Linked DNA regions of Homo sapiens: region 1 is linked to region 2. The links come from fine-mapping of genetic effects on gene expression. A gene starts in region 2. The other region holds a variant in brackets. All regions are shown on one strand. Distances are from middle to middle. Region 1 holds the start of LINC02597 (long intergenic non-protein coding RNA 2597). Region 2 holds the start of SLPI (secretory leukocyte peptidase inhibitor).

Evidence for each region. PIP is the estimated chance that this variant, and not a neighbour inherited with it, causes the effect. A credible set is the group of variants that fine-mapping cannot tell apart.
Region 1: its variant is the best candidate, but not a certain one, in a credible set for the expression of SLPI in whole blood (TOPMed, PIP 0.50).

The regions. Positions count from the first base shown.
Region 1 is chr20:45,175,814-45,181,191 of GRCh38, reverse strand. It overlaps PI3 (peptidase inhibitor 3), which reads right to left. Exons shown (of 3, transcript NM_002638.4): 2 at 5,056-5,331; 3 at 4,648-4,822. The coding sequence ends at 5,057. It overlaps LINC02597 (long intergenic non-protein coding RNA 2597), which reads right to left and starts at 1,205. Exons shown (of 4, transcript NR_187568.1): 1 at 1,058-1,205. The variant A/G (reference allele first, on the strand shown) is at 2,361.
Region 2 is chr20:45,251,531-45,256,908 of GRCh38, reverse strand. SLPI (secretory leukocyte peptidase inhibitor) reads left to right here and starts at 2,345. Exons shown (of 4, transcript NM_003064.4): 1 at 2,345-2,450; 2 at 3,176-3,334; 3 at 3,758-3,907; 4 at 4,490-4,670. The coding sequence starts at 2,366. The coding sequence ends at 4,494. The region is part of intron 2 of LOC105372630 (a long non-coding RNA gene); the gene reads right to left.

The DNA of each region.
Region 1 (5,378 bases), 76 kb after region 2:
CACATGCAGCCTGCAGGCCACAAGTTGGACAAGCTTGCTCTAGGTAGTTTGGAGGCTCTATTAGAGGGGCTCAAAAACTCCACGTGCTTAGGCCTTCTCTTTTCCAGATGGTGTTACTGAGGTTAGTGAGAACAGGGAACTTATCCAGGTCTGTTAGGAGTAAGACTTAGGTCTGGGAGGTGACATAGTACTACCTGTTCCTGAATTCCAGAAGGGAATCGGAGGACAGAGGGTACCTGGAAGGGACTTGAAGCTGGATAAGTTAACGTGGGTAGAAAGACTCCCTTCTCTGCACAGTTACACAGCCTCCTAGGTGGGCAGGACCAAGCTTAGATGTCGCAAAAAAAAAAAAAAAGATACTTGGTCCAAAGTCACATCTCCCAAATTGGGCCCTCATCATGCTGTGAATTCCTTATTTCTATTAATTAATAATTTCCTTTGAAATTCTAAACAATTGGAAAACAATGAAAGACTCCAAGTATTAGGAGACAAATACTGAGGCATCAATTGGAATTATAGAAATTACATTTGAAACAATTTGATCAAGTCAGCTATTTTCAGACAATTGTACAACGAACCCATGTCTGGGAATCAGAGAACCAGTTCTTTTCTGGGTTTGACTTACTGAGTGAAATTAGGAAATGCATTTCTCCCTTCAGGGGTCTGTGCAATCGTGATAAAGTAAGGAGGGAAATGACATCTCCCCACAGTCATTTTGTTGTCCTTTATGCCATTCAAGATTTGTTAATCAGGTGTCAATATCTCTAGGGAGGCCATGCAGGGACAGCAAAGTGAAACATGTTGGGGCCTTGTATCTCTCTTTGAGGCCTTGGGTCTCCAAGCCCTTGTCTGGTTCCAGCACTCCTTGGACAAGGCTGTCTTCCCTAGTAACAGCACCTCTCATTGCTTGGGAAGTTAGGAGAACTGGTACCCCATATCTGCTTTTGAAATCTGGTTTGAGTCTAGAGGACACATCCAATGCATGGATCACACCCGGAATTATTGCAGAGGGAAGCAATGAAATGGAAGCAAGAAAAATAGCTTCTTTCAAACTCACCCAAAACATTACTCACGCTTTCTTTTTTCTTGATCTTCTTCAAGTGCATTAATAATTTTTCTCCAACTTCTTTCAGAGAGTAGTTTCCAGGAGATTTTTTTGGGGTAGTTGAAGACAATAGAAGGCAGAAGAGGAAGAATAAGTAACTTCCACAATCTCCACCCCAAGAGGTATAAAATAACACCACCACCAAGAAATTTCTAAACAAAACCACATCCTCAACATAACTTGAAAACAAAGAATGCCAAAAATACAAAATACCTGTCAGTGAAAAGGGAGCAAACAACAAATCCCAGGGCTGGAACTCACACTCTCCTGCTATTTCCAGCCCCACTGTAAAACTTAAAGCTTTGCAAAATCGACCAAAAAAACTGCTGAGGAAGGAATGACATAACCAAGATGGTGAAATAGAAGGCACCTGCTCATGTCCCACCAGAATGACAAGAATTCTACACTCATCCACAGTCCAAAGTCTCTCTGTGGGAGCCTCTGGATCTGGATTCAGGGGGAAGTTTGTGAAACTCTGGTGGAGCCCAAGACCTTGGAGGGTCATATTGAGAGTGCAGACCAACACCCACGTGGCTGATCCACTGAGCTGGCTCCAGAGTTCAATCCCAGAAATGGCCCATTCAGGGGTTTGGTTACATTTGGCCTTGAGCCTGCAATCAAACCCATCTGCTGTGGGGTCCAGAATGAATCACATACACTAGGGCTTTGGCAGAAAGGCCCTTCTGCTCACTGACTGGGCAGTGAATCTGAAAGTTGCCTTGTGATTCAGCTCCAGCCCCCATCAGCTGAGGTCCCAGCTCAGAGCTGCTCACACAACAACCCAGAGGGAGACTCACACATATCTCATAGCCTAAGATCCTAAGCCTCCCTGACAGGCTTGCCAACCTCTGTTGCACAGCAGGTCGAGATGGGATCCAGTCTCAGCTCTGACACTTCCTGCTGTAATTGAACTATCCTTTCGGTGCTGAGACTTGCAGGGAGATATGTACTTGTCTTGGCCAACAAGATGGACTCTCCAGCCTCCATCCCACAGCAGATCCCAAGGTGGGGCCATTCCCAGCTTCAGCTCCTTCTGCTGGAATCAGGAAACTATTACGTCTCCGCAGGAACTTGCTGGAAGATGTGCACTCCTTCTAAGCCAATGAGATCGGGATCTCCAGCCACTGTGCCACAGCAGATCCTGAGGGGCCCAGTATCAGCTCCACCCTCTCCTACTGCAGTCAGAGGACTATTCCAAATGGCAGGGTCTTCTTGGGAGATGTGTCCCTGCCTGACTGAACATGAAAGGAATTAC[A/G]GTCTCTGTTCCACAGCAAATCCTGGATGGAAGAAACCACTGGTCTCTGTGAGATCTTGAGTTGCTCAGCTACCTTGCTAGGCATGGACTGTCATCCTGGCCTGCTTCCTGAGCGAAAAGAAAGTGTCTTTTTGGAACCTTTCAATTTTTCTCTCTCAGTGGCTTAATCTTTGCCTGAATTCAGACCAGAGTTAGTTCTTTTGTTTTTGCAAATAGTGAACCTACCGTCTGAATCTTGTTTCTTAAAAAATTCAAGTTTTCTTCATTGTTTTGGAACTTGACATTGATCTTTACCTGAATTAGATATAATGAGGCCTGATTCTGGGTTTTCTTTTGTTTTCTATTGATTTCTCAACCTGACTATTCTTCTAATAAAAACAACATATTGATTATTGTTACTTTGCAAAACTTTTTTTTAAGTCTAGGAGGTTCCAGAGCCCTAGGGTTAATCTTCATTTGTAAACATCTACGCCTATTCACAAGAATTTATGCTTCCCCATAAACTTAAGTATGGTTTCAAGTTCCCTTAACCTCCATAACCACACCATATTAAAAATGGATTTTGGGTATAATACACCTTAGGGATAAATTAAATAAATATTAAATATTGAGTAAATAGTGACATCTTCACCACATAGTCTTCATGTATTGTGATATGTGCATATTCATGTATTGTGAGTATGTGTATATTCAAGCATTTTTATATGCCTCTGAAAAGTTACATAGATTTCTCTTCTAAAGCTCTGCCTCTCTCTTGTTTATTTATAGCAATGGTGTGATTTTGTTGATATTAATAATAGAAAATGCAGCATGTCTAACTGATTGTTGCTAGCATATAATAAAAATATCATTTACTATCACTTACTAACCTTGTGGCTTTTAATGGTTACTTAATCTCTCTTAGCTTCAATCTTTTTACAAAATTAGAAAATAAAATATGTATAATGGCCATCTGAAAGGGACTTATGAAAAATAAGTGACAATACATGTAATCTACTAGGTATAGGAAATAGAGTAAATATTAAAAAACAGAAACCATTATTTCCTCCAATGATGTATTTTGTATTTGTCAAGCCAGAAGTTTGGGTACTGCTGTCACCTGTACTCCAAGACACCCTAGTGTCAAAGCCCTACAGTTGTTCGGACTAGCCTCTGAACAATAGGGAAAAATCATGGCTCAGATGCTCGTGGATGGGGCAAAGTGGTGCAGGGATCCACATTGTCTCACCCCAAGCCTCTGCTCCCCATGTCATCTCAGAGCAAGAACCCAATACACAAAGAAGAGCTGTTTCATATCCCAGAGTGGCAGGATTAGACCTTCCTTTGCAGAATAATTATACCTTACCCCCTCAACTGAAATAGACCTCTGAGGCCTGGAAGGGGGACATACATTTGCCAGAGGTCACCCAATACGTGGGGAGGCAAAGCCAGTGCTGAGATCACCTGACTGTCAAGCCTGTGCTTATTCCCCTTCACCCAGGCTGCTCCCCTCCTGGGGGCTGTGGCCTTCTCTGAGAGTTTCCTTGTGCAATCGCAGTGGGACGAGTGGGTCAACAGGAGAGCCATGAGGTTGCTCATATTCCTGCCCCTTTCTCCACTACTCAAGTCTGCCCTGCCCCCAACATGTATGTCTCCAGAGAATGCTATTCACCCAAACCTCTGACACCATAGTATGAAGGACTTAGTGTATCTTGCCTCCTCATTCACATCTTAAAACAGAAATCTGGAAGAGAATATTGCTTAACCTAAAGGAATGCTACTTCATGGAGGAATCTCAGGCATAAACCAGTGAAATTCTAAAGAGCAGGAGTTTCGCAGCATCTGTAACATCATCCTTTCTATGTGGTGTTGAAAAGATATAGATTCCTGGGAAACATTAATGAGAAGGAAGTGGGGAGCTGTAGTTGCAGCCATAAGGGTTGGCTGGTCACACTGGTAAGGCCGACAGTAGCCAGGTCAGGACTGATGGTGGATTGGAAAAAAAAGACCTGCTTATGGTTTATGTAATGTTTATTTATTTTTTGTGTTTTGTGTTTTTCCTGGTCCTTGGCCAAAGGCAAGATTTCCATATTTCCATTTCCTGGTGAAAAGGAGCTGGCAGCACTGGGGCTGATTATTGGATTTGTAATATGAAGCCCTAGCAATGTGCCTCCTGTTTCCTCCCCCCGCCCTGCTCTCTTTCACCATGGGACCGTTTCCCCTCTTCACTGGAGAGAAGAAGTCCCAATTCTACATCCATTTCCCCAAAGCATCCAGGAGCCCAGAAGTCATAGGAACCAGAAACAAGTGGAGCAGAAGGAACTCTTTATTGGAAAGTGGATGAGAGAGGCAGCTCCAGCCGTGGGCATCCTGAATGGGAGGAAGAATGGACAGTGTGGGAAGGGGAAGGGCAGCAGGGACTTAGGACCAGATGGGGCCTGTAGCTCTGGGGACGGCACAGGTGCAGCAAGGACCGGCTCCCTCTGTGGAAGAGAAGAGTATCAGAGGTGAGAGTCAGCACATCAAAGCACTCAGAGGCAGTGAGGAAGACAGATCATCCTTCTAGGCACTCTGGTTATAGCCTCTCAGACCCCTCAGTCTCCCAGTCTTTCTGTCACCTCCCACAACCTCCCTCCCACCAACCTGGGATGCTTCCCCACCGCTCAGCCTTCTTTTGTGTCTTCAGGGGTCTCCTCGTTCTCCAGCTAGTGCTCACCTCACTGGGGAACGAAACAGGCCATCCCGCAAGAGCCTTCACAGCACTTCTTGATTCCTGGGCAGTCAGTATCTTTCAAGCAGCGGTTAGGGGGATTCAACATGGCGCACCGGATCAAGATAATGGGGCAGGAGCCAGGCTTAGTGGAGACTGGACCTTTGACTGGCTCTTGCGCTTTGACTTTATCTTGACCTTTAACTGAAACTTGTCCTTTAACGGGATCTTGTCCATTGAATGGAACACGGCCTTTGACAGTGTCTTGACCTTTAACAGGAACTGTTAAAAGAAGAAACGAGCCCACATTTATACCCAGTAAGCCTCTG
Region 2 (5,378 bases):
TGACACCCATGGAAGACATTGCTAATTGGGCACAGGGCTCTTTTCTGATGAGAAAGGAGCTGGCTCTAATCAGTCAATCACAGATTGAGCAATCAGTCAATCACAGATTTAAAAAAAACTTAAGCTGTAGCATTTTCCTTTTAATTTTTTTTTTTTTTGAGACGGAGTCTCAGTTTGTTGCCTAGGCTAGAATGCAATGGTACAATCTCAGCTCACTGCAACCTCTACCTCCAGGGTTCAAGTGATTCTCCTGCCTCAGCCTCCTGAGTAGCTGGGATTACAGGTGTGTGCCACACTGCCTGGCTAATTTTTGTATTTTTAGTGGAGATAGGGTTTCACCATGTTGGCCAGGCTGCTCTTGAACTCCTGACCTCAAGTGATCCGCCCACCTTGGTTTCCCAAAGTGCTAGGATTACAGGCATAAGCCACCGTGCCCAGCCCCTTTTCATTCTTTAAGAAATAAATATTTAGAAAACTCCAGATAATTTCTTGAGTGTGGCACTGAGGAAAATAGGAACAAACAGAGAGAGAGAGAGAGAGAGAGAACAGGAACTCTGTGAGAGAAATCAAATTATCCCCTGGGTGGTGGAAGTGAGAACAAAAATCTTGACCTGAGAGTGTCATTACCCATTGGTGGAAATCATAGCCTCCATTTCTCTCTTACCTACCCTACTAAGTACTCCAACTAAGAGTGAATGCACCTGGCTCATAGTAGTTACCTTGTGCATATTAATTTTCTTCCTTTTCTTTTTCCACCAAAATTTGACTGATGATTGATTATGTCCAAGTCTTCTGATCCACCAAAATTCAAACCATGGAGTGACTTTTGTATAAAGGGATCTGCTGCCAGTTGCCTGTTTGGTTGTGGAATACTTAAATACTTCATGTGGGGCCATCGCTACTTGATAATGAGTGGGTCTTTCATGTCTGTGGAAAGTTCCACAAACCTTCACCTTAGGAATGAATGGGAGAATTCCAAGCATGAAGATAATGAGTCAAGAGCTTGGAGTTTGTAGCTAGATGAGCTTTGGTTGAATTTTATTTTATTTTATTTTTTTAAGACAGGGTATCGCTCTGTCCCCCAAGCTGGAATGCAGTGGCACAATCATGGCTCACTGCAGCCTCAAACTCCTGGGCTAAAGCGATCCTCCTGGCTCAGCCTCCCAAGTAGCTGGGACTACAGGCATACGTACGTCATCATGCCTGGCTAATTTTTTACATTTTTTTGTAGAGATGGGGTCTCAATATGTGGCCAGGGCTGGTCTCAAACTCCTACTCTCAAGGAATCCATACACCTCAGCCTCCTGGGCAGCTGAGACAGCAAGTGTGCGACCCTACACTCAGCTATGGGCTGAATTTTAGAGATAATGGTCGCTCTCTTTATAATTAGAAGCAACCTATGCAGACTGGGTAGCAAATAGAATGGGTTTAATTTTTTGCTGTCATGTGAGATCTGTAAGGGATTTTGGGGAATTTTAGGAAGCAATCCTCTAAGATCTCAAATTATCTCACAGCTAAATGTAGATTACAGTGACTGATGAGCTGCTTTCCCCCTTTATCTCAGATTCATTTCAATTCTCTTTAGTGGGAAGGGATACTATTCATTTGTTCTTTTCATTCAGAGTCCCTTCATGCCCTTAATTTCATAACCCTCTGAGAAGGGCTGACTTGTTAGTATCATTTCATTTCACAGCTGAGACAACTGAGCTCCAGAGAGATTTGTGGAGAGCGGAGCTCTTCTTCAGCTTTCATTTGTGAGTGCTTTTCCTGTGTCAGGCACAGAACAGGCACTGGGGATATAACGGTGTAAATATTTCAGGGAACTAAGTATCAGTTGGTTGAACGAGCTGAACTTTTGAGAAAGAAACTGCATTGAGTAATCAGCAGAGTTTCACAATGCCTGAGAGTCCAGTAATGTGAGAATCAGAATTAGCAATGTGAGAATAGAATGTATTGCACAAAGTCTCAGCAGGGAGTCTGTGTCTGGTTTTAGTTCCAGGTCCGGGTAGCACCTTTGCAATTGACCACTTCTTCCCTCTCTCCACCTATAAGGCTAATGGCCTGGGATCTTGTGATGTTTAGGGCTCAGATGGACACTGAGATGGCCTCTTTAATCAACCAACTTCCCAGGCCAATCTCTTCCCTTTCTTTTCTGATAGTTGCTGTGTTGGCCTCATAGCCTTACCTGGCATAGGAAAGATAAACAATCTCCTTGGTGTCAGGATTTCTGGTCTCTGGCTACGTTTCCTGCTTATGCAATAGTAGCTGGGAGAGGCCGAAAGAATTCTGGTGGGGCCACACCCACTGGTGAAAGAATAAATAGTGAGGTTTGGCATTGGCCATCAGAGTCACTCCTGCCTTCACCATGAAGTCCAGCGGCCTCTTCCCCTTCCTGGTGCTGCTTGCCCTGGGAACTCTGGCACCTTGGGCTGTGGAAGGCTCTGGAAAGTGTAAGTTGGAGTCACTCTGGTCTAATCTGGGCTGCAGGGTCAGAGGTGGGGTCTCCTTGTGGTGTGGGTGTGTCCCCTTCTGTAGGCTCTGATCCCTCAGCTTAGTTTCGGGAGACCTCCCTGAGGGTGGAATACATGTCTGGCTGAGCTCCAAGGTTTGTGTGACAGTTTGAGCTTCTGGAAATGCTTCCTCTATGCAGCCATGCTGTCAGCCCAGGTCCCACTCTCTCTCTCTCTCTCTCTCTCTCTCTCTCTCTCTCATACTCCGCCTTCTTCTTCACCTGTCTGCGACTCTCAAATCATTAGTTTCTGACTCTGCTTCCTTGTGTCTTTGCTTCTGCTATTTTGTCTCTGTGCTTCTGCCTTGGGCTTTAGCTCTCAACTTCTCTCACACTGGTTCTATTTATCTTTGTTTACCTCTCTCCATCTCCATCACTCCCAGCCTTCCTCTCTGCCTTTGTGTAGCCTTGTTTTGCTCTTGGGTGGGAGGTCTTGACTAGAAGCCTGCTGCCCTTTTCTTGGGTGTGAAACGTCCCCTGTCCATTTGTCTAATTTAATCAAGCCCATCAATACACCTGGAGATCAGGCAGGCATGACCCTTTGGGCTTTGTGGACAGCTACTGAGGTAAGGGTCTCTCCCCCTCAAAAGTGGTGCTTTGTTCAGGAGGCATGATGGGTCCTCAGTACCCAGCCTCCTCCTGACCTCTTGACTTTCTCTTCAAAAGCCTTCAAAGCTGGAGTCTGTCCTCCTAAGAAATCTGCCCAGTGCCTTAGATACAAGAAACCTGAGTGCCAGAGTGACTGGCAGTGTCCAGGGAAGAAGAGATGTTGTCCTGACACTTGTGGCATCAAATGCCTGGATCCTGTTGACACCCCAAACCCAAGTAAGCAGGTCGGGGAACTGGGTAGAGAGGAGTGAGCCTGGGGACACAGCATTAGAGGGATGGAACTGGGTGATGGGTCCTGCCAGGCCTCCTTGTCAATCCGTCAGTGAGTCACACTGCCCTAAGCAGGAAGGTAGCCAGCAGCTGGTGAAGCAGCGGGCATTTAGATAGCCAGGTAGTTGGAAGCCTCCCACCTAGTCAGCACTGGGTGGCTGGCCACCTGCATCAATGGGGGGCCTGAAGTTCTAGGAGAGCCAGGTGCTATGTTTGGGGGCCGCCTTAGGGAGAAGGTGGTGGTGATAGAGGTGGGGAGGGGATGATCCCCCCTGCTGAAGCTGGAGCAGGGGCTCACTCTAAAAAGTGGGGATGGGAGGGGTTGTATAAAGTACAAGGCCTCTGACCGGTAGCCTCACTCTCACCCAGCAAGGAGGAAGCCTGGGAAGTGCCCAGTGACTTATGGCCAATGTTTGATGCTTAACCCCCCCAATTTCTGTGAGATGGATGGCCAGTGCAAGCGTGACTTGAAGTGTTGCATGGGCATGTGTGGGAAATCCTGCGTTTCCCCTGTGAAAGGTAAGCAGGGGATGAGGGCACACTGAGCTCCCTCCAGCCCTCTCAGCCTCAACCCTCTGGAGGCCCAGGCATATGGGCAGGGGGACTCCTGAACCCTACTCCAAGCACAGCCTCTGTCTGACTCCCTTGTCCTTCAAGAGAACTGTTCTCCAGGTCTCAGGGCCAGGATTTCCATAGGATCGCCTGTGGCTTTGATTCTATTCTAGTGTCTCTGGGTGGGGGTCCTGGGCAAGTGTCTTTCTGAGTCTCAGTTTCTTTATCGGTAAAATGTACATAATGAGATTGAAAGTGCTCTGCAAAGCACTATGTGCACTAAGAATTTATTATTCAGGTTGTTTCCATCATGTTTTCTGAGGTGAAATCACAAAGGATCAGTGGAGTTTGAGGATTATCTAGTTCAATGCTTTGAGTTTAGAGTTTTACGGTGAAAATGAGACTTGTCTCCTGACACTAAGTCTCTCTCAACTATAGCGCTATCTTGCTATTTTCTCTATCTCAGAAGGATCCTTGGGCAGGAGGAAGGATGTGGATATGATTTGGCTGGTTTCTATGCTGAAGCTCTTATCTGATTTTCTCTCACAGCTTGATTCCTGCCATATGGAGGAGGCTCTGGAGTCCTGCTCTGTGTGGTCCAGGTCCTTTCCACCCTGAGACTTGGCTCCACCACTGATATCCTCCTTTGGGGAAAGGCTTGGCACACAGCAGGCTTTCAAGAAGTGCCAGTTGATCAATGAATAAATAAACGAGCCTATTTCTCTTTGCACATCCTGCTTCTGTGATTCGTTGGGGGTATGAGTGGGGTGGGAAGCTGTGAGGGAAGATCTAGATATGAGGCCTCCTTCCTATGAATACGTAGTGGGAGGAAGAGGCTTAGGGACTGGGGGAACTTGAATTTATATCATGAGTGTGAAAGTGCTGACTCTGTGATTTGGGACAAGTGATTTTATCTCCTAAATTTCAATGGGATTAGGGATGTACAATAACATGAAGAATCAGAAACCTCAATTTTACTGCCTCTGGCAGGATTGTCAACTGCAGGTGAAAAACTTTCCTGAGACGAGTTTATGCATAAGAGATCCTGCCAACAGTTAAGCTATTTTAATCCAGGGGGTTTTCATCTAAAGCCATACAGAACTGTTGGGGCAGATTCCTGTGTTCACCTCTGTATGTGTTACGATATATATATTGGTTTTCACACTTGATATGTTGTAGGTCTGTCTGTTGTCTAATCCAACCAACACTCTCTGGACACTCAGAAAAATTAAGATTATCTGCAACTCACAGCAAATGGAGTCCTCAAAAAGACTAACCATGTTACGTCAGTGCCCACTCTCGATTATTTTGAAAGACTTGGAATGCCCCAAACCTCACTGGACCATTCTGCTACATACTTTTCTCACCTCCAGCAAGGGTTATTCCAGACTGAGGAACCTAGGCTCGGGCAAATACGCTACTAGGAGTGTGCCCCAAG